Linked DNA regions of Homo sapiens: all the other regions are linked to region 3. The links come from fine-mapping of genetic effects on gene expression. A gene starts in region 3. Each other region holds a variant in brackets. All regions are shown on one strand. Distances are from middle to middle. Region 1 overlaps TTC23 (tetratricopeptide repeat domain 23). Region 2 overlaps LRRC28 (leucine rich repeat containing 28). Region 3 holds the start of LRRC28 (leucine rich repeat containing 28). Region 4 overlaps TTC23 (tetratricopeptide repeat domain 23).

Region 1 (8,478 bases), 20 kb before region 3:
GATTTGCATTTCTAAATTCCTTTCAAAAGAGCTCAGCATTTCTATTGTCTCTGCCACACGTAGTTCAGGTCCTCATAATTACTTGCCAGGATTACTGCAAATATCCTCCTAACTGATGCTCCTTTTCCAGTTTTACTCTTTTTTTGTCCATACCCTTCACAGCTATGGGAGTGACTGTTCTTAAAATCAGACCTGCTCATGGCATGCTTCTGCTTATAACCTCATGGTAATCCTCCATCATCTTTAGGAGAAAATCAAAACTCTTTCACTAGGCCTTGAGTGCCCTCTGGGCCTCAGTTCCTGCCCATAATCCAGCTTCATTTCTTGCCCTGTGTCACTAACACATTAGTCCCAGACAGCTCCTTACAGTTCCCCAGACAGACTGCACTCCCTCAGACCATTGGCTCTTGTCCATCTGCTACCTCTGTCCAGAACATTTGGTCCTCTTCCTCACCTGTCCAACTCCTAAGCACTGTTTACCAGTGCAGTCTACGTAACTCCCATCCGAAGAAAGTGTGCCTTAACTGCTGTCCCTCTACCACCTCCAGGCTCACTGTCCACCCCTTCGTGTTTTGCATCTATGTCACTCGAGCTCTCACAGAACTCATCAACCTGACTACCATTATCTGTCCCCCGTCTATCTTCCCAACCAAATCCCGAGTCCCTCCAAGACAAAGACTGTGGCTTTTCCTTCTGTGCCCCTGGCACCTACATTGCACCTGGCACATATTAGTCATACAATAGATATTTATGATGACTGGATGAAGAGGACCCAACATATAAGAGGTGATAGAGAAATGCCTACTGAATGAGTTAGTGAATGAGTAAAACTTTTGAGGAAAGAATGGGAAAGAAGCATGCAGAGAACAAGATTTGAGATTATAAGGAATTACAAGCTCTATGAGAGCAGAAGCTGCATCTGCTTTGTTTGTGTTGTATCCCAATGCCTAGACTTGGCACACAGTGCGAGCTCAACAAATATTTGTTGTTGGCCATGCGAACTGCTGTGCTTGGAGCCTAGAGGTACTGCATTCATTCATGTTATAACAAAGGCACTGTCTTATATACTTTCTTGTATCAAACTGCTGAGATTAGGAATGTAATCCAAAACATTCTACTTCTCTTGATTATACCATATAGCTCAATTCTCAGAGTAGAAATACAGAAACAAAAGTCTCCTTACCTCATGACTGTTGGAATAGGACTTTGCTTTCTCTTCACAGAGGTGGAGTTTCTCTCGAGGAGGCTGGAATAGTGCTGTCTGAAGCAGCTTGTTTTGGAACTTCTTTCTATGAGTGATGCTAACAGCAGCAACAACTTCATCTAGGTGGTTGGATATGTGGGTTTCCTGTGATTCTTGCATATTTTTATATACATTGTCTTCTAATTTTAAAATAAAAAACAAAGATGTTAAATGATAATTTCCATAGTTACTTTTAGAAATATACATTTCAACACTATACCCATAATTTCTTTGAAATTAGTAGCATTATATCCCAAAAGATTATGGTGGCTACTACTGACCTGCTGATTTCTACTTTCAACTAAATTAAACCTTCTTTCTTTATGTATATAGACATACATATATATATGCCTACATACATATACACACATACATACACATGTATATAAACACACATACATACATGTATATGTGTATGTATTACACACATACATACATACGTAAAGTCCAGTAGAAATTAGCCTAGCACATACATATGTATTTGTATGTACATATATATATAAAGTCCAGTAGAAATTAGCCTAGCACATACATATGTATTTGCATGTACATATATATATATATATCTAAAGTCCAGTAGAAATTAGCTTAGCCCAAACAGCTCTCAATGACCCCAGATTAAATCAGCTGAAGCCCAATTGACCCTGAGGTAGAAAATAAATAATTGTTGTTACAACTTTTGCTTCTGGCCAAGATGAAGTCTAGTAACTACATTTATCCTCTTGCCTGAAATAACCCAAAACAAACAGATAAGCAGCCCACAGAACAAAGGATAAAACAACGGTTTCAAGAAACAAGACAAGCAATGAGAGAGCAATTCCTGAGAGATGGAAAAAATAAATCACCCCAGTTTATTGCTTTGAGAGAGTTTCCAGGAAACAGCACAGGGAAGAGGGGACCCAGAAGTTATCCCAGTGGACTACCTGAGTTGAGGAAGTAGAGTTGAGAGTTTGGGGAGACCAAGGTGACTAGAACTGACAGGACAAATTACTGAAGAGGAGAAGGCTCCAGAGACAGAGGAACCAAGATATTAGCAGAGGGACACCCTCAAGTATAGGGACAGAATACTGATTAGCATGTGTGTAAGAAAAGTATTTTAGTCTGGAGAAAGAATCCTTCAATAAGGTTACAGGGAACAGTGTTTTGTGCTAACGTAAGGCTGGCGCCTGTTCCCACCAACCAGACTGAAAAAATTTCTAATTCATGAGGCATTAGATAGTTAGAGTACTCAGAAGCCTTTCATCTCAGTAGAGGCGATAATTAGCTCTAGACTGAACACTGCTCAGATCACCACACAGATCAAAAAAGTAAGACCTAAAAGGATCAAACTGTTTTCAAGGGACTTAATTGCACTAGAGGATAATACTCAAGGATGTTCATAGGAATACTAAAATAACCAACACCTAACGAGGTAAAATTCACAAAGTCTAGCATCCAAAGATTACCAAGCATCCAAAGAAGCAGGAAAACATGGCCCATAATGAGAATAATCAATCAAAAC[T/C]GACCCAGAATTGACACAGATGTTAAATTAGCAGATAAAAACATTAAAACAATTACAATAATTGTATTCTATATGTTTAAAAAGTTAAATAAAGACATGGAAGAAATAAAAAAGACCCAAATGGAACTTCTAGATAGAAAAATTATGTGTGAAGATGAAAATGTGTGGGATTAATGGCAGATAAGATACTGCAGATGAAAAGATGAATTTGTAGACATAGCAATAAAAATTATCAAAAATGAAAAAAAATCAGTGGGCTGTAAAACAACTTCAAGTTGCCTAATATATATGTCATTTGAGTCCCTAAAGAAAAGCAGACTAGAGGAGGGACAGAAAACATATTTGAAGAAATAATGGCCAATATTTTTCCAAATTTAAGAAAAAGCATAAAGCCAGAGATCCAAGAAGCTCAATGAACACTAAACGCAAGAAACATGAAGAAAACTATACCAAATAAAGTCAAAACATCATAAACAAATTGCTTAAAACTATGATAAAGCAAAAATCTCAAAAGTAGAGAAAAAAGACACATTACGTATAAAAAATAAAGATAAAGATGATAACAGATTTCTTAGGGGAATAAAAAGCAAACAAGGAGAGAGTTAAAGATACTTCTTATCTTTAAAGTATGGAAAGAAAAAAGTTGTCAACCTTAAATTCCGTACTGGTGAAAATACCTTTTGAAAACAAAATTTTAAATAATTAATCGCCAGAAGACTTGCACTACAATGTTCTCAAAGAAATGTAAAAGGAAGTCTTTCAGAAGGAAGGAAAATGATAGCAAATGGAACTCTAGTTCTACAAAACAGACGACCTTGGAAATGGTACGTACATGGGCAAATGTGTAAGGCTGCTTCCATATTACAATCATGTCCAGCTCCACAGCATTTCAGTCAATGACTGCATACATAAAGGTAGTCCCATAAAATTACAGTGCAGCTGAAGAATTCCTACTGGGTAGTGATACAGTAGCTGTCGTAACATCATAGCGTAATGCATTGACTCATGTGTTGGTGGTAATGCTGGTGCAAACAAACCTATTGTGCTGCTAGCCATATAAAAGTAAAGCATATACAATTATGTACAGTACACAATATGTGATAATAGTTGATAAATGACTGTTACTGGTTTATATATTTAATATACTACATTTTATACTTATTTTAGAGGGTACTCCTTCTACTTATACATTTCTAAAAGTTAACTGTAGAAAAGCCTCAGGCAGGTCCTTCAAGAGCTATTCCAAAAGAAGGTATTCCATTATCATCATAGGTGATGAAAGCTCCATGCATGTTACTGCCACTGAAGACCCTCCAGTGGGACAAGACATGGAGGTGGAAGGCAGTGATATTGATGATCCTGACTGTGTAGACCTACATTAATGTGTGTGTTTGTGTCTTAATTTTGTTTTTTTTTGAGACGAAGTCTCGCTCTGTTGCCCAGGCTGGAGTGCAGTTGGCACGATCTCGGCTCACTGCAAGCTCCGCCTCCCGGGTTCACACCATTCTCCTGCCTCAGCCTCCTGAGTAGCTGGGACTACAGGCGCCCGCCACCATACCCGGCTATTTTTTTGTATTTTTAGTAGAGATAGGGTTTCACCGTGTTAGCCAGGATGGTCTCGATCTCCTGACCTCGTGATCTGCCCACCTCTGCCTCCCAAAGTGCTGGGATTACGGGCATTAGCCACTGCGCCTGGCCTGTTTGTTTGTTTGTTTTGAGACGGAGTTTCACTGTTGTTGCCCAGGCTGGAGTGCAATGGCTCTATCTTGGCTCACCGCAACCTCTACCCCCCAGGTTCAAGCAATTCTCCTGCCTCAGCCTCCTGAGTAGGTGGGATTACAGGCATGCGCCACCATGCCTGGCTAATTTTGTATTTTTAGTAGAGACGGGGTTTCTCCATGTTGGTCAGGCTGCTCTGGAACTCCTGATCTCAGGTGATCCACCCGCCTTGGCCGCCCAAAGTGCTGGGATTACAGGCATGAGCCACCATGCCTGGCCTGTGTCTTAGTTTTAACAAAAAAGTTTAAAAAGTAAAAAAAGAAAATAAAAAATTTTAAAAATAGAAAAAAGCTTATAGAGTAAGGATATAAAGAAAGAAAAATTTGGCGGGGCGCGGTGGCTCACACCTGTAATCTCAGCACTTTGGGAGGCCAAGGTGAGCGGATCACAAGATCAAGAGATGGAGACCATCCTGGCTAACATGGTGAAACCCCATCTCTCCCAAAAATACAGAAAATTAGCTGGGCGTGGTGGCACATGCCTGTAATCCCAGCTACTCGGGAGGCTGAGGCAGGAGAATTGCTTGAACTTGGGAGGCGGAGGTTGCAGTGAGCCAAGATCAAGCCACTGCACTCCAGCCTGGGCGACACAGTGAGACTCCATCTCAAAAAAAAAAAAAATGATCAAAGGGCCTGATAGATATTCCTCAAAAGATATACAAATGCCCAATAGGTGTATGAAAAAATGCCCAAGATTGTTATCATTAGAGAAATGCAAATTATATCCATGAGATTTCATCTTACACCTGTTAAAATGGCTATGATTAAAAAAAGAAAGATACATGTTGGTGAAGATGTGGAGAAAAGGGAATCCTTGCACATTGTTGGTGGGAATGTAAATTATGGAACACAGTAAGGAAGTTTCTCAAAAATTAAAAACAGAACTACCATATGATCCATGAATCCCACTACTGGGTGATACATCCAAAGAACAGTATTAGTATATTGAAGAGATCCCTGCACTCCATGTTCATTGCAGCATTATTGACAATGATCAAGATACGGTGTTAATGTAAATGTCTATCAACAGATGAATGGATAAAGAAAATGTGGTATGTATACACAATGGAATACTACTCAGCCTTAAAAAAGAAGGGCATCCTGTCATTTGTGACAACATGATGAACCTGGAAAATACTATGTTAAGTGAAATAGCCAGGCACAGAAAGACAAATACTGAATGGTCTCATTCATATGTACAATCTACAAAAGTTGAACTCACACAAGTAGAGAGTAGAATGCTGGTTAGCGGAGGTTGTGGGAGGAGGAATAAATTCAAGAGATCTATTGTATAACATGGTGACTACTGTATTGTTTCCTTGAAAATTGCTAAGAAAGTAGATTTCAAGTGTTCTAATCACAAAAAGTGATAAATATGTGAGGTAATACATATGTTAATTAGCTTATTTAGCCATTCCACAACATGTACATATTTCAAAACATCATGTTGTACAAATAAAAGAATGAGAGAGATGACATCACTACAGATTCTACAAATACTAAAAGGTTAATGAGAATATTGTGAACACCTTTATACCATAAATTTGACAATACAGATGAACAAATTCCTTTAAAGACACAAACTACCAAAGCCCAAAATATTAATAAAAAAGAAAAACTGTATGATCTCACTCAACATAGAAAAAGCACTTGACAAGATCTAATATCTAATATCTATTCCTGATGAAAATTCTTAGCAAAGTAGGAATAGAATTATACTTCCTCAATCTGATAGGCACCTTTGAAAAACCTACAGCTAACATCAGACTTAACAGTGAAAGACTGAATGCTTTATCTCTACGATCAGAAACAAGACAAGAAGGTTCACTCTCAATACTTCTATACAGATTTTAGATTTTAATCTAAATGTGAAATTTAGATTTAAATCTAAAATACAGATTTATTGAGCTATATTTATGATAAAGCTACGGTAGGCAAGGCAGTTTGTACTGCTGTTAAGTAGACAAGCAATGGAACAGAATGGAGAGTCCAGAAATGGACCCACACATACATGAATAACTGATTCCTGACAAATATGCAAAACCAATTCCTTGGAGAAAGAAGTCTGCTCAACAAATGATACTGGAACAACTAGATATTCACACGTAAAAATAAAACAAAAAACCCCTTTGATCTATATCTCATATTATATACAAAAATTAACTCAAAATTGAACATAGAGTTAAATATAAAACTTAAAACTATAAAAACAATGTGTAAGAAAACACCTGTGACCATGCATTAGGCAAAGCTTTCCTAGATATGACCACCAAAAAGAATCATTAAAAGAACAACATAACCAATTGGATTTCATCAAAATTTTAAATTTTTGCTCTTCAAGAGAAACTGTTAATTAAAAAACTAGAGGCTGGGAGAAAATATTTTCATAAACATGTATCTGATGTAAGATTTGTATCTTACTGGTATAAAGAACTCTCAACACTCAAGAAAACAGCTCACTATACAAATGGGCAATTTATTTATTTATTTATCTATTTATTTATTTATTTATTTTTTGAGACGGAGTCTCGCTCTGTCGCCTAGGCTGGAGTGCAGTGGCGTGATCTCGGCTCCCTGCAAGCTCCACCTCCTGGGTTCACACCATTGTCCTGCCTCAGCCTCCTGAGCAGCTGGGACTACAGGTGCCCGCCACCATGCCTGGCTAAATTTTTTTGTATTTTTAGTAGAGACAGGGTTTCACCATATTAGCCAGGATGGTCTCGATCTCCTGACCTCGTGATCTGCCTGCCTCAGCCTCCCAAAGTGCTGGGATTACAGGTGTGAGCCACCGCACCTGGCCAAAAATGGGCAATTTATTTTAACAGACGCTTCATCAAAGAAGATATACCAAGAACAAATAAGCACATGCTTTATATTCAACATTATTAGGCATCAGGGAAATGCAAGTTAAAACCACAATGAGACGTCACTCATCAATTAGAATGACTAAGATTAAAAAGACTTATTGTAGTAAGTGTTGATGAGGATGGGAAATAACTGGAACTCTCATACACTGTTGCTGTAAATGTAAAATGGTATACCACTTTGGAAAACAGTTTGGCAGGGTTTAAAAAAAAAAAAACTGGTAAAATAAGGCCAAGCATGGTGGCTCATACCTGTAATCCCAGCACTCTGGGAGGTGGAGGCGGGAGGGTCACCTCAGCTCAGGAGTTTGGGACCAGCCTGGGCAACATGGCAAAACTCTGTCTCTACAAAAAATACAAAAATTAGCCAGGTGCAGTGGCATGTGCCTGTAGTCTCAGCTACTCCGGAGGCTGAAGCAGGAGGATGGCTTGAGCCTGGGAGGGGCAGACTGCAGTGAGCCAAGATCACACCATTGAACCCCAGCCTGAGAGACAGAGGAAGACACCATCTCAAAAAACAAAACAAAACAAAATTGTAGTAAAAAATATATATATATAAAATAAAATTTCTCATTTTAACCTTTTCATTTTTTTCCCTTTCTTCATGTGGACATTTTAAGCATTTTTTTTTTTTTTTGGTTTGTTTTTGTTTTTGAGACGGAGTCTTGCTCTGTCGCCAGGCTAAAGTGCAGTGGCGCGATCTCGGCTCACTGCAATCTCTGCCTCCTGGGTTCAAGCGATTCCCCTGCCTCAGCCTCCCGAGTAGCTGGGACTACAGGCACACACCACCACGCCCAGCTAATTTTTTTGTATTTTAGTAGAGATGGGGTTTCACCATGTTGGTCAGGATGGTCTCAATCTCCTGACCTCGTGATCCGCCTGCCTTGGCCTCCCAAAGTGCTGGGATTACAGGCATGAGCCACTGTGCCCGGACCATTTTAACCATTTTTAAGTGTGCAGTTCAGTGACATTAAGTAAATTCACATTGCTGTACAACCATTACCACTGTCCATCTCCAGAATTTCCTTCACCTTGCAAAACTGACACTCTGTACTCATTAAACAGTAACTTCCCATTCCCCCTACCCTCCAC
Region 2 (4,000 bases), 29 kb after region 3:
TGGGATTACAGGCATCCGCCACCACGCCTGGCTAATTTTTGTATTTTTAGTAGAGACGGGGTTTCACCATCTTGGCCAGGCTGGCTTCAAACTCCTGACCTTGTGATCCACCTGCCTTGGCCTCCCAAAGTGCTGGGATTACAGGCGTGAGCCACTGCACCTGGTCCCTTGTCTTCTTTCTGATCTTGCTGGGAATGCCTCTAGGGTTTCCCCATTAAGAAAGATGCTGGCTTTACAGTTAAAGTGTCTGTAGTCTATTGTGTTAAGCAAATATTCACCTTTTTAATTATCTATTGCTGCTTAACAACTTACCCCCAAATGTAGTGATTTAAAAGAATAAACATTCAGTGTCTTGTATTTTCTGAGGCCCCAGAATCTGTGCCTGACTTAGCTGGGTGCCTTTGCCTCCAGGTCTCTTACGAAGCTGCAGTCAAGGTTGTTGGCCAGGACTGCAGTCTCATCTGAAGATTTAACTGAAGAAGGATCTTCCTCTATTCACGTGGTTGTTGTCAGGTTCAATTCCTTGTAGGCTGTTGAACTGAAGGACTCCATTTCTTGCTTGATGTTGGCTAGAGCACTTCCCTCATTTCCTTGCCATTTGGCCTTTCTGTAGGATAGTTCACAACATAGCAACTGTCTTCCATCAGAGCAAGCAAGCCAAAGAGCAAGAGAGAGTATACACTTTCCCACAATCCCTGGTAATCACTAATGTACTTTCCGTCTCTATGGATACACGTTTTTCTGGATGTTTTATATTAGTGGAATGAGACAATATGTGACCTTTTGTATCTGGCTGCATTAACATAGCATAATGTTTTCAAGGTTTATTCATGTTGTAGCAGGTATCAGAATTAATTCCTTTTTATGGCTGAATAATATTCCGTTGAATAGATACATGACTTTTTGTTTATCTGTTCATCAGTTGATAGACATTTGAGTGGTTTCCACATTTTGAAAGCTTTTCCTTTTACAGTTTGTGGTTTGTCAGTTGTTTGTTACAACTGTTTCAAGCAGCTGTGAAGTTAAACAATTGCCTGTAATTTGTTTCAGTTTACAGTGGTTTTTGCCCTGGGCAATCTGCTACTCAGACGGAATAAAGACAGCCTTGCAACTGGGTCTTCCAGGGAACCTTGAGACAAATCTTTGACAGTTCTCTGAGAAGGAAGCTTTGAAGGCACTCTAACGTGGTCCTACCCCCTTGCTACTGCTTTTCTCTTTGATTGTGAACTGTTGGTTTTTCAGGCTTCTGCAGAGCAGGAGAGTGGGGTTAGGACTAGAGCAAGCGAAAATACCATGAAGCCTACAACCCACGGTTCTTACTGACGCTCAGTCATTTTTTTCTTGGATAAATTCTCCCTGTATTATGGTAAGCCTTAGGTTCATTTCCAGAGTTCTCAACATGTAGCATTTGGACATTTCTGACAGTTTCTCATTGTTTTTATGGAAGAGAATTTTTGGAGGTTCTTACTCTACCACTGTTGCTCAAAATTTTTAGTTTTGTAAAAAACTGCCGGTTTACCAGATTAGCTGTTCCATTTTACATTTCCCCTGGCAATGTATGATTGTTCCAGCGTCCGCACATCTTACCAGCATTTGGTGTTGTCTTTGTTATTTTAGTCATTTGGATAGATATGTGGTTTTTATGACATTGGAATTTCCATTTGTATTTCTAGAATGACTAATGATATTGAACATCCTTTTGTATACTAATTTGTCATTGGCATCTTTTTTTGGTGAAATGCCTGTCCATGTCTATTGCTCATCTTCTGATTGTATTTTTTTTAATTTCTGAGTTTTAAGAGTTCTTTGTAAACTAGTTTTCTGTTCTATATGTTGTTTACAAATATTCTCTCCCAGTGTATAGCTTGTGTTTTCATCCTGTTTATGTTCTTTTGCAGAGCAAAAGTTTTACATTTTGATGAGGTCCAGTTTATCATTTTTTGCTTTGATGTGTCATGCTTTTGATGGCAAGTCTAAAAACTCTGTGTCTAGCCCTAGGTCCCAAAGACTCTCTCCTTTCCCCGCCCCCACCCCAAAGTCTTACAGTTTTTTATTGTACATTTATCACCTATATTTTTAAAATTTTTTTCTGGGATTAGAATTCTTAGTGACCATTTTTTTTGTTGTTGTTGTTATCAGCACGTTCATGATATTCATTATTCCCTGGCGTGCATAGTTTCTGAAGAAACATCTACAGTTGTTATATTTGTTCCTTTGTGTGTATGTGTCTTTTTCTCCCTTGGGCTACTTTGAAGGGTTTTCATTTTTTACACTAATTTTAAGGGTTTGATTTAGGTGTATCTTGTTGTAGTTTTCTTCTTTCTTACCTTTGAGGTTCATGGGGTTTCTTGGGGTTGTGTCTTAACAGTTTTTATCAAATTTGGAAAACTTTTGACATTGTTTTTTCAGATATTTATTTATATACCCTGTTCCTGGCCCCTGCTTGTGGAACTCTTACCTGTTTGTTA[G/C]ACTGTTTAATACTGTCTCGTAGTCACTAAGACTTTTCATTTCCTTTTCAGACTTTTATTCCCTATGTGCTTCAGTTTGGACAAATTGTATGTTCTGTGTTAAAAGTCAGTAATATTTTCTTCTTCAGTGTCTAATGTACTATACTAATCCCACTCAGTGAAGTTTTCTCTTTGGTTACTGTATTTTTTTTTTTTTAAGGGACAGGGTCTTGCTCTGTCGCCCAGGCTGGAGTGCAGTGGCTCTATCCTAGCTCGTTGCAGCCTTGAACTCCTGGGCTCAAGGGATCCTCCCATCTCAGCCTCCCAAGTAGCTAGAAGTACAGGCATGCACCACCATGCCCAGCTAAATTTTAAATTTTTTCATAGACATGGGGATTTGCTGTGTTGCCCAGGCTGGCTTTCTGTGTGTGTTTTTGAGACAGGGTCTTACATTGTCACCCAGGAGTTACACTGGAGTGTTGTGATGCAATCATGGCTCACTGTAACATCAAACTCCTGGGCTCAAGTGATCCTCCTGCCTCAGCCTCCCAAAGCTCTGGGATTATGGGAGTGAGCCACTGTGCCCAGCCTGTTACTGTATTTATGATATTTGGAAGTTCTGTTTATTTTTCTTTATCTTACAGTTCTTATAATGTTCATATTTTCATTTAAATAGCTGAATATAGTTATTATAGCTATTTTAATGTCCTGTTTGCTAATTCTGTCATCTGTGTCATACTGGTTCTATTTGTACTGACTGATTTTTCTCCTGGTTATGGGTCATATTTTCCTGATTCTTGGCATGTCTAATACTTTTTGATTGGATGGACCTTATAAAGTTTGCATTTTTGAGAGTCTAAATTTTATTGTGTCCCTTTTTTCTGGCATGCAGCTATTTGCAGTTTACTTTGATCCTTTTATGGCTTATTTTTATACTTTGTTAGGATAGGTGGTTAGGTTAGCCCTATTACTAAAGCATGAGCTTTCCAGGATCTCTCTTGAATACCTCAAATGATCAACAAGGATTTGGCATACTTGCTCAGAACTTGAATGTCTCTCAACACTGTGAGCTTTGCAGGCTGTTCAGCTGATTGATTTTCAGGTGCTTTTTGCCTGGAGTACCTTTTATTTTTCTTCTATTATTTTTTGAGATGGGGGTCCCATTATATTGCTCAGGCTGGTCTTGAATTCTTGTCCTCAAGTGATCCTCCTGCTTCAGCCTCCCAAGTAGCTAGGGTTACAGGTATGACCCATGACCCACTGTATCCTGTTAGAGTTTTTCTTATGTGTGTTTGTTCTAGAATTCAGCTATGAGTGAGGCCAAGGGATTCCTTATGCAAATTTTTGGAGGTTTTTTTTTTTTTTGTAGCAGTAGCTCTCTCTTCTTCAGAACTTTACCCCACAACTTCCAGTTGCCTCAGGTTCCCTGAACTCTGATATGTGTCTCCATAACTCAGTAAGACTTCTGTACTTTGGGATTTCCTTCCTGTTCTACAGTCCAGAATTTGCCCCTAGGGTGAAAGCTAGGGAGATTGTGTGGCTTACTTCCTTTC
Region 3 (4,000 bases):
TCGAGCGAATTACACAGTTGTCTTGGCAGCGTGATTTGCCCTCTGGTTCCTGCTTTATCAGTTTGGTGATTCTTTGTACAGATTGATAACCATGAAAAAGTCTAAAGTAGGGCAGTTCCGGAGCAGCCTTTTCCCATAAAGCAAGCGGGTACCTCACAAAACTCCAGGCAAAAGAATGAATGATAGAGCACTCACCAATAGCGAGTGGAGAAGAGTATTTTGTCGAAGTTTGCAAACCAATCTTTGGGAGCCAGAGGTGGGAATTTTAAAATGAGGTCTTTTCCTTGGAATTTTCTTAAAGTGGTATCGTTGCCTGTTGATATTGAAGTTTGTCAAAGAACGTGAAATCACCAGCTTAGAGGATTTTTTTCCCCTTTAAGAGAGACAAAACGTGCGAATTGATTCTCTACAAATTGTGAGAACTTCAAGAGTGGGGTCATAAAGTATTATCAAATATAATCACTTGGTAACTTTTGTGTCAATGTGGGGAGGAGGTGAAGGTTATTTTAACATGATTCATTTTTCATGATCAAATATCAGATATTAATCACTGAAAAACAGTATTCCCCATTAAAAAAAAGAAATGAAAACTAAGAGGCTAACATTGTTTTCAAAAAACTGTTCTACTGTTAATCTTTTTTCTTTTTTGGGGGGTGTAACTCTTCATATATTAGCAGCAAGTCTTATTATTTGGGCTGACCATTAAACACCGTATCTTTGTTTTTACACAAAATGTGGATTTCCTCATTTTAAGACCAGCAAAAAATTTCTGAGTGCCACGAATTCTTAGGTATTCCGAAACTATCTTAGAAATACATGACATATACCAACCATGCTGTATACCTGAATAGCTCTTGAAGACCAGATTTAATAGATAACTGATAATTTTTATTATAACTCATACCTTGTTTTAAAACCAATGTTTTTTATTTAATATAACTCTGCTTTCTAGGTTATTCGTCTCTATGAATAATTAAGTCAGCAACTGTAAAAACTACTTCATTATAAAGTTAAAGTTCCTTGACAAGGAGCCTCGCAAACTCATAGACAGGCTTTCCACAGAACAAAAAATATCAGCGGTTGTAGTAGAGGATTATACTTTAAAATCTTCATTTCAGAAGGAAATTTGTCATATTAATGAGACACTTTAAAAAGTGTCTTTTAAAAATGTTTCCGAACTATGCTTCCAAGTATTTTTAACAGCATAAAGCCCTCTTTCATGCTATTTCGCTGACATAATAATTTTCGTCTTGAAGAAATACATATTGACGGCCTACTCAGTCAGGCTAGGAAGTGTCATTGTATTTAACTCTCTAAATTGTTCCTGACCTTTTTAGCAATCTTTACTCAAAATAAACCTTGGGTGTTTGAAGGGCAGAGACTAGGTTACGTCCTCCTCATCTTTGTTATCTACCAGTTCGTAGTGACCCCTTAAATCCGGTGCTTAGACTCACTACTTGCTAAATAACGTTGGCTTCGTTACATAAACCCACTGGCCTGTTTTTCAACGGTCAGACTGGCGCTGTTAGTCCCTGTGTCATGGGATTGCTGTCAAGGGTTCAACGAGATAATCTATAAACAGCTCTTAGAACGAACGCTCAACGTGGGATCATTGTTGTAATCCCTCAACGTGTGCTCTGAATGAGAAGCCGAGTGACTGAATGAATGTATGAATGAAGGAACAGGTCAGTAACTGGCGGTTCCCGAAGTTGGAGCCGACTAAATTACCCCTTCAAGACGCTAAGCAAAAGCCACTCCGTCGACATCAAACCCCACGCCGGAGCCGGAAGCAAGAGTAGAGCCGCGGGCGGGGCCAGCATAGAGGAAGTAGCGCTCTCGGCCAATACACAGATCGCTTGGCAAACGAGCATTTTCCCGCGCCTATCGTGAAAGCGCGAGAACACAGGGGATTATCGCGAGGTTCCGTGCTCCTCTCCCGCTCCCTCTTCCCCAGCTCCCTCTGGCGCGGGTTCCGCTCCACCCCCGGAGCCCCGCCCCCGACGCCCGGCGCTCCGCCCCGCCCTCGCCTGGCTCCCTGCCCCGCCCCGCCCGCCGTCCCCCGCTTGGCTTCCAGCGCCGCTTGCGCTCCGGAGCGCTGGCTCTGCTGGCGCTGAGGTGAGTAGAGCTGTCCGCCTCGTCGGGTGATTCAAGTGGCGAGGCTCTCTGACCCGGCCCCCCGGCGGGGACGCCCCAGACGTGGTCCTGCCAAAGCGTCCGGGTCGCGGCGAGTGGGACAGCGGAGCCGTCCGGGCCTCGGGTGGCCACAGCTGCCGGGTCCTCCTCCCACTCTGCGGCCCGCGGCCCCTGGGACCCGAGAACCCTGATACCGGGTCCGTGAAATCCCTGCTGCTGGGCTCGCTGCTTCCCAACTGTAACGATCTCAGTGGCTGGCTAACTCGGGCGAAACGGCGTGTGTTTTGCCTAAGACTCTGCCAGTGTTTGTTACCACAGCTGAGAAAATAGCCTTTTACAAATGCTTTTAATATGTAGCTTATAGTTCTCTAATCTCCAGCGTTAGGAAATTGGAATGCGTATTCTACTAAATTGAGTACGGGGAGGTCAGTATAAGGGACTCCTTCCTTTCAAAATACTCCTTAATATGTGTGGAATTTTGTTGAGAGGTTTTTGATTTTTTTGTTTTGTTTTTAATAATAAGATAGATTGGTGTTCACCTGTCAGAAAGCTCGTGTGTAAGTGCAGCTGTATACAGCTGATATTAAGTAATACTATTTGCCTTAACTACATAAGAGGTAGTATAACTATACAAGAGGTAGTTTGCTTAACTAGGTAAGATGTAGTCAAGTGAAATGGGGTAAGAAAATTACCTTGTTAAAGGCTGTGTATGGCCCGTGAATGCATACTGCAAAACTGTGAGCATTGTTGATGCTTTATTGCTATTATTGGCAGTTTTAGGATTTCATTTGTTTAGATTTTATCTCCCAAACAGCCTTTGTAGCAATTTTAACAGAGTGTAATGGTGTTTTTGAGGCAGCCAATCCCAGCCAGAACATTCAGAAGGAAAGCCGTCAGGTTACAGGGACTGTCTTATTGAATCTTCCTTCAGTGAGTGTGGTTTTGCATTATAGGGCGGCGGTGCACACGCTTTGTAGTCAGTCCACCTGCGATGGAACTATGGCATGTTACCCTCTGAGAAACTCAGTTTCCTCCTCTACAAAACGGGCTACATAATGTCTATTGCAGTGCATGGTTGTAAAGATTAGACATCCTTGTGGCATGTAGCAAGCTTATAGGCTCTATCCGTGGTCTTGACATAGTTGGATGAAAAATCAACCTTGCAATGTTCTTCCACATGTCATCAGATATTAGAAGGCCTACTTTAAAATTTTAAGTCCCTGGATACATGTGCAGAATATGCCGGTTTGTTACATAGGTAAACGTGTGCCATGGTGATTTGCTGCACCTGTCAACCCATCACCTAGGTTTTAGGAAGGGTTACTTTTAGTTACTGTGCTAGATGCAGGTATGCAAGCGTGAAGAAAACAACGCAGTCCCTGCCCTCAGGATTTCTAAATAAGTTTCGGAAGGGTTTATTTACAGGCTTTTTGGCTTTATTGACAATAGACAGATGCAACGATAAATATTTAAGTGACAAATTGTGAGGAGTCCTACGAAGAAAAAACAAACAGCCAAGTTCCTCTGAAAGAACACCAGGGGAATTACTTTGGGATAGGGAAGTGATTTTTTTTTTTTTAAGACTGAGTCTCGCTCTGTCGCTCAGGTTGGAGTGCAGTGGTGCGATCTCGGTTTACTGCAAGCTCCGCCTCCCGGTTTCAAGAGATTCTCCTGCCTCAGTCTCCCGAGTAGCTGGGATTACAGGCGCCCGCCACCAAACCCAGCTAATTTTTGTATTTTTAGTAGAGATGGGGTTTCGCCAAGTTGGCCAGGCTGGTCTCGAACTCCTCACCTCAGGTGATCCACCCTCCTCGGCCTCCCAAAGTGCTAGGATTACAGGCGTGAGCCACTGCGCCCGGTCTCAGGA
Region 4 (8,478 bases), 30 kb before region 3:
CTACTCACTGCAACCTCTGCCTCCTGGGTTCAAGCGATTTCTCCTGCCTCAGCCTCCTGAGTAGCTGGGATTATAGGCATGCGCCACCACGCCTGGCTAATTTTTGTATTTTTAAGTAGAGATGGGGTTTCACCATGTTTGTCAGGCTGGTCTTGAACTCCTGACCTCATGATCCACCTGCCTCAGCCTCCCAAAGTGCTGGGATTACAGGCATGAGCCACTGTGCCCGGCCAAATTTATACAAATTTTAAACACATAAATATATAAAACAATATTGTTTGTTATTCAGAGATACATACTCAAAAACGTAAGCCATCATTAAAGTATTTATCTATGATGTGTGTGTAGGAGAATGAGAGAAAAGATCGGAGATGAAGGGAAAAATTAATTTAAAAATCCATACCAGAGGATTTGCACAGATGAGTGAGCTCTGCACTTGCAGTTCAAAAACCACCCAAGAAAAACAAAAGAACAAAGGGAATTGTGATCACAAAAGAAGATCTTTAACTGCATGAGTCAAAGTTGGTTCTTCCCACTTTCCATTCACATGGAAGCATTAGGTGTGTTCTCCTGGGGCCCTTTCCTAGCACCTTTCTTAAAATGATTCCGTGGGTTCTCTGAGTCGTCTTGGCAATCAACCTACACATACAATCTAGTTAGGAAGGTAAACTGAATTCTTCCGGCTTTGGCTAAGGGCAGCCATGTAGGTCAACTGGGATACTCTGCCTCTTCCAACACAGACCTTTCTCCACCTTTTCCTCTGCACAAGTCCATCTTTCCAAAGAGTGTGGACAAACTCTGTCACCCCAATACTCTGAGGAATTGGCTTAGGTTGCTCTTTGGAGAAAGATAAAAGTACTAACTATGCACAACCTTCTCTTCGTGTCTCTTCCAGCTGAGTTTATTTGGTGAGTATGGAGTAAGGTGAGGAACAAAGAACAATCCTTTCGTGATCATGGATTCAGATGTGTTTAAGATCTTTCTCCTTTGAGGCTTTCATCATAAACTCAACCTGTTGAAGCATTTTAGACTGGAGCAGGGCAGGGAAAAAAGGAAGGGAGGGAGGAAGAGAAGGGTGTAGGGGCTGGGGGTGAGGAGGGAGAGCAGGTAAAACGAAAGTCAAGAGAATAATGATCAGAACTCTGGGACCCAGGGCACTCCACAGAGAGTGAAAAGTGTCACTGATGGATGCCCTGGTTGGGGCTGCTCTGACATGACTGTGTTCCTCTTTTACTTTTACACAGTGACCTCCAGAGAAGCCATGGCCGCAGCCTCATGGAGATGCTCCTCCTACCTGAGACAGATTCTACAGGCAAAGAGCCTCCCGCCATCATGTATGCAAAATCCTAAACTTGAAACTTACTGTGCAAATGATAATCTGATCCGTGCTTCAATTTCTATCCATTCTTCCTTTATAATTCTTCCACATTGTAGCAGCTCCTTTGAAAGTCTCTCTGCTTTTGTCAAATTCTCTGCAGCTTCCTTAAATCTGAATTGTGTTCAGGAAATTTTCCACTTGGTTCTAGATTCTACACCCCATGTCCTGAACTTCCTTGGCTCCCATACTTCCAATCACACTTCCTAAGTCATCCATCAGCATCAGCTTTTTACTTGGCGTGTAAGTGTTACGTGAATAGTATTTCTATTTGTAAAAGTTAGAGGCAAAAGGATACTTTTGAAGGGAGAGTAAAGCTCTGCCCATGGTATGGAAAAGCTCAATGGAAAACTTGAAAACATCTGTATTCTCACTATAGGGAGGCACAATGGAGTTGGCGAGGATTTGTCTGGCTTTTTCTGCATGTTGTTTTGCTTGCAGTGACAGTCCTGTGGACAAAGAAAAAGAGGTCTCAGTTTCTCTATCATCTCAACTGGACAGGAATACAGTTCCTTATGGTCTGGGAATCTAACAAGGTCTCCTTCACATATTGTCAAATGACACATGGAGACGTATCTGGGCAGCATGAAACACTGCCATGACTGTAACAACCAAAGAAGTGTTTTATACCAAGTACCCAAGATAAATTTTCCCCCAAATGGCCTTTTTAGAAATAAACAAAATGAGCTGGAATTGAACAGCTTTGAAACCTCACCAATAGCAGAAGCAAAATATGTTACATATAATTATAAGAAACAAACTGAATACAAGAACTATAGCATTCTGAGCAGGAAATAAAATATTCATGAATTTTAATCCTGGCTGTGTAACTGCAATCTTAATGAAATACTAAAAATTCTGAATCTTCAGCTCACCCACCTATAATCATAATGTCAGAGAGTTATTTTTTTAACATAATACATATCTGATATCTACAAAAACTTACAAACACAATTCCAGTGAGGTAACAGATTAATGTGTGACAATTTCATCTTCCTATGTGGTAAGAGACTAATATGAAACAAAGTGGAGCAAAAAAAAATCACTACTAAGAAAGAATTCCCCAGTGTGTTCCAGTGTTCCTCCACGGGCTTGTTAATCTGTGGGAAGGGAGGACTGAGATCGCTAGCACGGCTTCAGGGCTTTGCACGTCCCTGTATTCCCATCCTCCTCCCCTACACCGACAACCACTTCCACTCACATACACACAGCCCCCATCTTATGTTCTTAGTTACACAAAATTGTATCTTAGATCTCTAAAAAAATCTGTCAAAATATGAAGTTAATTCTGTTCCTATGTCTATAAAACAGGAAGAATATATTTTCTAATGGAGAAAATCAAGGGTATGTGTTTCATGTGGGAATTCTTACACAAGATTGTCTTATTACATATTTTTAAAAAGCACAGACATGTATTAGTGCCACCTGTGCTTGTGATGTTACACAAAGCATGTTGGACTGTATTTTCAACTGTGTCGAGTCCCTGAAGGAACCTGAACTCAATTTACTGGAGGCAGCATAGGGTGAAGTTCAAGAACATTGGCTCTGAAGTCAGACTGCCCAGGATGGATCCCCTGCTCCACCACTTATTATAAAACGTTGGCCTCAGCTTTCTCAGCTGTAAACAGGGATATTAAAAATACCCACCTTTGAGGACTGTGGTGAGGACTGAATAAGGTTATGCATGGAAAACAACATGCCTGGCACCAAATGAGACTTTAATAAATGGTAGATACTACTTTTACTTTAAATTGAGAAAGAAGGACTGTCACGCAGAGAGGCAGCAGGCTGTATAAGAAAAGCATCGTCTGAAACCCCAGATGGCAGGACAAACTGGCATTGAAAACCTAGGTCTGAGTCTCAGATCAGCTACTTATTAACAGTGTGGTATGGGGAAAGCTGTTCTAACTCAGACTCATTGTTTTCCCTGAATCTACAAAATGGGGTGGGAGGGCAGAGTTTAAATTAGATAATCTCCAAGGTCCCTAAGAGCCTTTGATCTAATAGGTAGGACCAGTCTATAATCAGATTTGGCCAAATTTATTGGGTGGCAATAATGAATACGCTTGGTATAGAATATGCTTGGCATTTGGTGTTTTCCACTTCTATTATTTTCTTTATTCACTGGGCCAACCCTGGAAAGTTAGCATCACCATTACCATCATCATCACTTTTCAGCTGAAGAAGCTGAGCACAGAGATGCTCTTGTCCATCTTGTCTTAGGCTGCACAGTCAGTAAGTAGAAGCCATCATCATATCCTGGGTGTCTATTGTTTTTGCCTCCCCTGCACGCATTCTCCCCTCTGTTTCCCTTTTGGGATGCCTGGCTCCTGCACATCCAATCCATGAGATGTGGCGAAGGCCTGCTTCTCCTTCAGGATCCAATGAAGCCAAAAGAAAGGTTTAGCCAATCAGACTATTCCTTGCCTTTGGTATACAACCCAAGTTGTTCCAATTAGAACCCTTCCCAAATCCCGGGATTTTGGTGGAGGGACATTCTTTTCCTCCTGGGAATGCTTATAAGGGAAGTCTAAAGTTGCAGGCAGTCTTGTTGCCACCATGTGGGCAAAACCTGGCAAAGAATGGAGCAAATACCAAGAAAAACAGAGCCAAGCAGTGGGAGAGAGAAAAATTGAATCCTGGTCACATTGTTTGAACACTGGATATGGCTAAGTCTAAAAATTTTTTCCCTTGAATTTTTAAGTTGTATGAGCCAAAAACTTTTGTTTATGCCAATTTGGGTTAGTCTTTTTAAATTTTTTGGTTATTTACAGTCAAGAGATTCTCCAATAAAAGTGTGAATGGATCCCATTCTGGGCCCCTATTCCATACCTTGGGTTTTTTCCTACAAAGTCTTCTGGCCCAACAGATTAATTTTCTCCTAAGAACCTTACTTTTGAAATCATAAAAACAAAAACAAAAACAAAAAAACCAGAAAAGTTAAAATATTTTTTCCATTTTTCCCCTTTGAATGTTTACAGGTTATATACCTTATCAACTCTTTCTAAAAAGAAATGGCTTCTTGGTATTTAGAAAGGAGAATATTAAAAAACCTGATCCTTCTAATTAAGTGTGAATCAAATTTTGGGGAGAACAGCAGAAATCGACCAACTGATCCCCCTCAGTCTAAGGCGAGCTTACCTTTCAGCTGGAGGTAGCCTTGAGCCAGATTAACATGTGCCTCTGCTAGTTTCCAATGTGAGTCTCCATAGCAAATTCTTGTCAGTGCTACGCAACGCACAAGCTCATGGACGGCCTGTTTGTACTGTTAGGAAGAGAAAACAGGCTTACCAGTTATACAACTTAAGAGTCACAAAACACAAAATCAATGCGCTTTTATATCCCTTTGATAAATACTGAGTGACTACTATGTGCAAAACATTGTTCTAAGCACTTGAGATGTATCAGAGAACAAAACAGACAAAGATCTATTTGGGGTGGTAGCATGTACATCTGGTAAGATGAAACAGACAATAAACATAAGAAGTACAATTTATAGTACATTTAAGGGTGAAAAAAAGAAATAGAATTTAAAAAATAGAAAAAGTAGAGCAGACATCTAGTCATTCTCTAGGTTTCCCAGCTGCCCACCAATGAACAGCTACTACATATGCAGGCACAACAGGGGCAAATGGTAGTGTTTTCAAATAGTACACTTTGTGTGTGTGTGTATGTGTGTGTGTGTATGAGACAGGGTCTCACTCACCTGGAGTCACCCAGGCTGGAGTACAATGGCACGATATCAGCTCACTGTAGCCTCGACCTCCAGGGGGCTCGAGCAATCCTCCCACCTCAGCCTCCTGAGCAGCTGGGACCACAGGTGTGCACCACCACACCTGGCTAGTTTTTTGTATTTTTGGTAGAGATGGGATTTTGCCATGTTGCCCAGGCTGTCAAATACTATAGTTTAGCTCTCAATTCAAAACTTTCCTTAGCCATCTGCACTAGCATAGCAAATGAGATCAGCAGGACTTACAGACTTGATTAAAGCAGCAAGAAGCACAGTTTCATTCAGGGATAGGACAAAAAGAACAGAAAACTGGATTCCCAGCTCCAGGTGATCTCAGAGCAGCCATATCCTCAAAGCAGAGCTGGCAGTTTTAAAACACGGTTCCAGGCTGGGCGTGGTGGCTCAAACCTGTAATCCCAGCACTTTGGGAGGCGGAGATGGGTGAATCACAAGGTCAAGAGATCGAGACCATCCTGGCTAACATGGTGAAACCCCATCTCTACTAAAAATACAAAAAATTAGCCAGGCATGGTGGCGGCCGCCCGTAGTCCCAGCTACTCGGGAGGCTGGGGCAGGAGAATGGTGTGAACCCGGGAGGCGGAGCTTGCAGTGAGCCGATATCGTGCCACTGCATTCCAGCCTGGGCGACACAGCGAGACTCC[G/A]TCTCAAAACAAACAAACAAACAAAACCTCAGCTCCAAAATTATTTGATACTCCTTCCATTCAGAGATGGGGGTCTATGTCCCATTCCCTTTGAATCTGGGCTTTATGACTGTTTGGCCAATAGAACGTGGAGGAAATGATACAGTGCCAGTTTTCAGGCCACAGTCTAAAGGAACTGGTGGCTTTGCTTTCTGTCTCTTCTTGGGTACTCACTCTTGAAACCTGTTATGGGCTGAACTGTGTCTCCTCCCCAACCTCCCTGAATTCATATATTTAAGTCCCAATCCCCAGCACCTTATAATGTAACTGTTTTTGAAGATGAGGTCTTTAAAGAGGTGATTTAAGTTCGAAGGAGGTGTTAGGGTGGACCCTAGTCCAATACAGCTGGTATCCTTATATATGAAGAGGAAAAGACACCAGGGATGGGCATGCATATGGAGAAATGACCATGTGAGAACACAGCAAGAGGGCAGTCATCTACAAACTAAGGAGAGAGGGCTTTAGAATGAAATCAAGCCCTGCTCACACCTTGGTCTTGGACTTCCAGCCTCCAGAACTGTGAGGAAATAAACTCTGTTCTTTAAGCCACAGCATCTGTGGAATTTTGTTAGGACAGCACCACAGACTAATACAGAATCCAACCACAGTGCTGTGAGGAAGCCAACATGGCCCCATGGAGAGAAGACCCACATAGAAAGGCCTGATAGTTTGAGTGAACCATTTTGGCAGCAGATTCTCCAGACCCTTCAAGACCAGCTGATGCTGTGCGGAGCAAAGCTGAGCAAACCCCACTGAGCTCTGCAAAAACCGCAGGCTCATGAGAAAAATGAATGGCTGTTTTGGTTTTAAGCCACTAAGTTATTGGGGTGTCATGCAGCAACAGATAGTCAGAACAGCAAGAGAGATGGCTGAAGAAAGAAAGCTGAAGGGGTCAAAGCAGAGGAAGAAAGGTAAGAACAAGGACAGAGTTGTGAAGAAGATCCAGGATACACCTAGGATGCACGCCCATCAATGTCAAAGCTCAAAGGGCTTGCATTTCCACACAATTCCTACATGCATTGGAAATACCTTCACCCTAAAACAACATTTTTCTTGACAAAAATACACAGCCAGACAGTTGGCCAAAGGAGAGTCACTTTTGTGACCTAGCAGGAGGAAGCTAAGGAATACATGCTCACCATAAAGTGCTGAAAGAAGGTGGACTGTCATATTCTTTTCTACAGTAACGTTTCTTACTACAAAAATAATGTATGCTCATTGTCAAAATACAGATAAGCAAAAAGATAAAAACTAAAAATCACCTGTAAGTTTACCGCCTAGAGATATCTAGGTAGATAAATATCCCTTTATTCTTTATTTTTGTGAATCTATCTTTATATATTTTTTCTTTTTCAAAAATAGGTTCATAAACTACATGCAGGTTTACAGCTGCTGTTTTAACAATTTACGAATAACTTCTCATGTCATCTTCTATGATATAAGTTTGAATGGCTGCACAGTATTTTATTATATGACTATATCATAACTGCATTACTCAATCCACTCTTTATTGGGCATTTAGCTGTTTGTAAATTTCTTACTCACTGAATATCCTGTATGGATAGCTTTGCACATACCCATAAACATTTCCACAAAACAAATTCCCACAAATGGGATTGCTGTATAAAGGATATGCAAAATTCTGAGGCTGTGAGTAGCTATTGAAGTGCCTCTCCCAGAGGTTGTACCAGTTCATACTTTCAGCGCAGCACATGTGAGCAGAAATGCCCCTTACGTTGAACTGAGTACAAATTGTGGAGTTTTTGTTTGGTTTTTAGTTTGTCAGTTTGTCAGTTAGCCCATTTCTCCTTGATTTAGTCCACATTTTTCTCCCAAATTGATGAGGCTGAGCATCTTCATGTGTTAACTGGCTGTTTGTACTTCTTTTGGGAATCACCTTTTTATTGCCTCTAGACACAGGAAGTTTAGGGAATGACTACTTTGGAGAGAGAGAAAGAGAACAACAACTACAGTGTATGAAAGACACGGAAATGATGACAACATCATGGAATCCAGACAGACAAAAAGAGAGGTAGATCTGTTTTGATAGTGAATCTGTCCCAACTACAGATTTCCAGCGAAGAGGACGGTGCAGGCTGAGTTGGGCTTCCCTGATAATAGCCTTGGTTCTCAGGACCTGAGTAGGGATAGAGGTATACAAGAAACAGCTTGTCCTTCCTTCACGTCCTTATTTGTTACAAGGCATGGTCCAAATATCCCTATTGGTTTTCCAACCTTTATTCTACCAGTTCCAGTGACTTTAGCAATAGGCATCAGTAAGGGGCAGACAGAAGACAAGCACGAAGTAGGAAGGCAATTTCAAAACTGGGAGGAACCTTGGAAATCATCTCACCTGGTCCCCTCAGTTTAAAGATGAAGGAGTCTAAGGCTGGAAAGTCGAGATGATTTACCAGCAAGTGGTAGCGCCAGGAAGTGGTTAAACCGTAAGGGGATGCATTGAGGACTCAGGAGCCAGCTGGAAGGGTCTCTCACTGGCAGATACGGAACAATCCGAGCTTCCATGAAAATAACAGGTTGTAGTGTATTTGAAAAATACAATTTCCTGAACCCATACTGATAGGAATAAATGAATGATAAATAAGCTGTGAAGAAAGAAAAGCTCTTCCTTATAATAGAATGCCAACAAACAAATGTTGAAATAATGTGGAAGT

Evidence for each region.
Region 1: its variant is fine-mapped to the expression of LRRC28 in whole blood (TOPMed, PIP 0.98).
Region 2: its variant is fine-mapped to the expression of LRRC28 in whole blood (INTERVAL, PIP above 0.99).
Region 4: its variant is fine-mapped to the expression of LRRC28 in whole blood (TOPMed, PIP above 0.99).

The regions. Positions count from the first base shown.
Region 1 is chr15:99,227,350-99,235,827 of GRCh38, forward strand. It overlaps TTC23 (tetratricopeptide repeat domain 23), which reads right to left. Exons shown (of 14, transcript NM_001288615.3): 4 at 7,639-7,731; 5 at 1,184-1,383. The coding sequence starts at 1,363. Among named protein-coding and RNA genes, the nearest start is that of TTC23, 18 kb to the right of the region's middle. The variant T/C (reference allele first, on the strand shown) is at 2,745.
Region 2 is chr15:99,278,380-99,282,379 of GRCh38, forward strand. All of the region lies in intron 3 of LRRC28 (leucine rich repeat containing 28), which reads left to right. Among named protein-coding and RNA genes, the nearest start is that of LRRC28, 29 kb to the left of the region's middle. The variant G/C (reference allele first, on the strand shown) is at 2,469.
Region 3 is chr15:99,249,427-99,253,426 of GRCh38, forward strand. LRRC28 (leucine rich repeat containing 28) reads left to right here and starts at 2,055. Exons shown (of 10, transcript NM_144598.5): 1 at 2,055-2,115. TTC23 (tetratricopeptide repeat domain 23) reads right to left here and starts at 155. Exons shown (of 14, transcript NM_001288615.3): 1 at 1-155. RefSeq lists an enhancer at 1,530-1,579 and a silencer at 1,830-2,369.
Region 4 is chr15:99,217,225-99,225,702 of GRCh38, forward strand. TTC23 (tetratricopeptide repeat domain 23) reads right to left here. Exons shown (of 14, transcript NM_001288615.3): 6 at 4,517-4,640; 7 at 1,674-1,824; 8 at 1,364-1,489. Among named protein-coding and RNA genes, the nearest start is that of TTC23, 28 kb to the right of the region's middle. RefSeq lists an enhancer at 690-1,889. The variant G/A (reference allele first, on the strand shown) is at 5,768.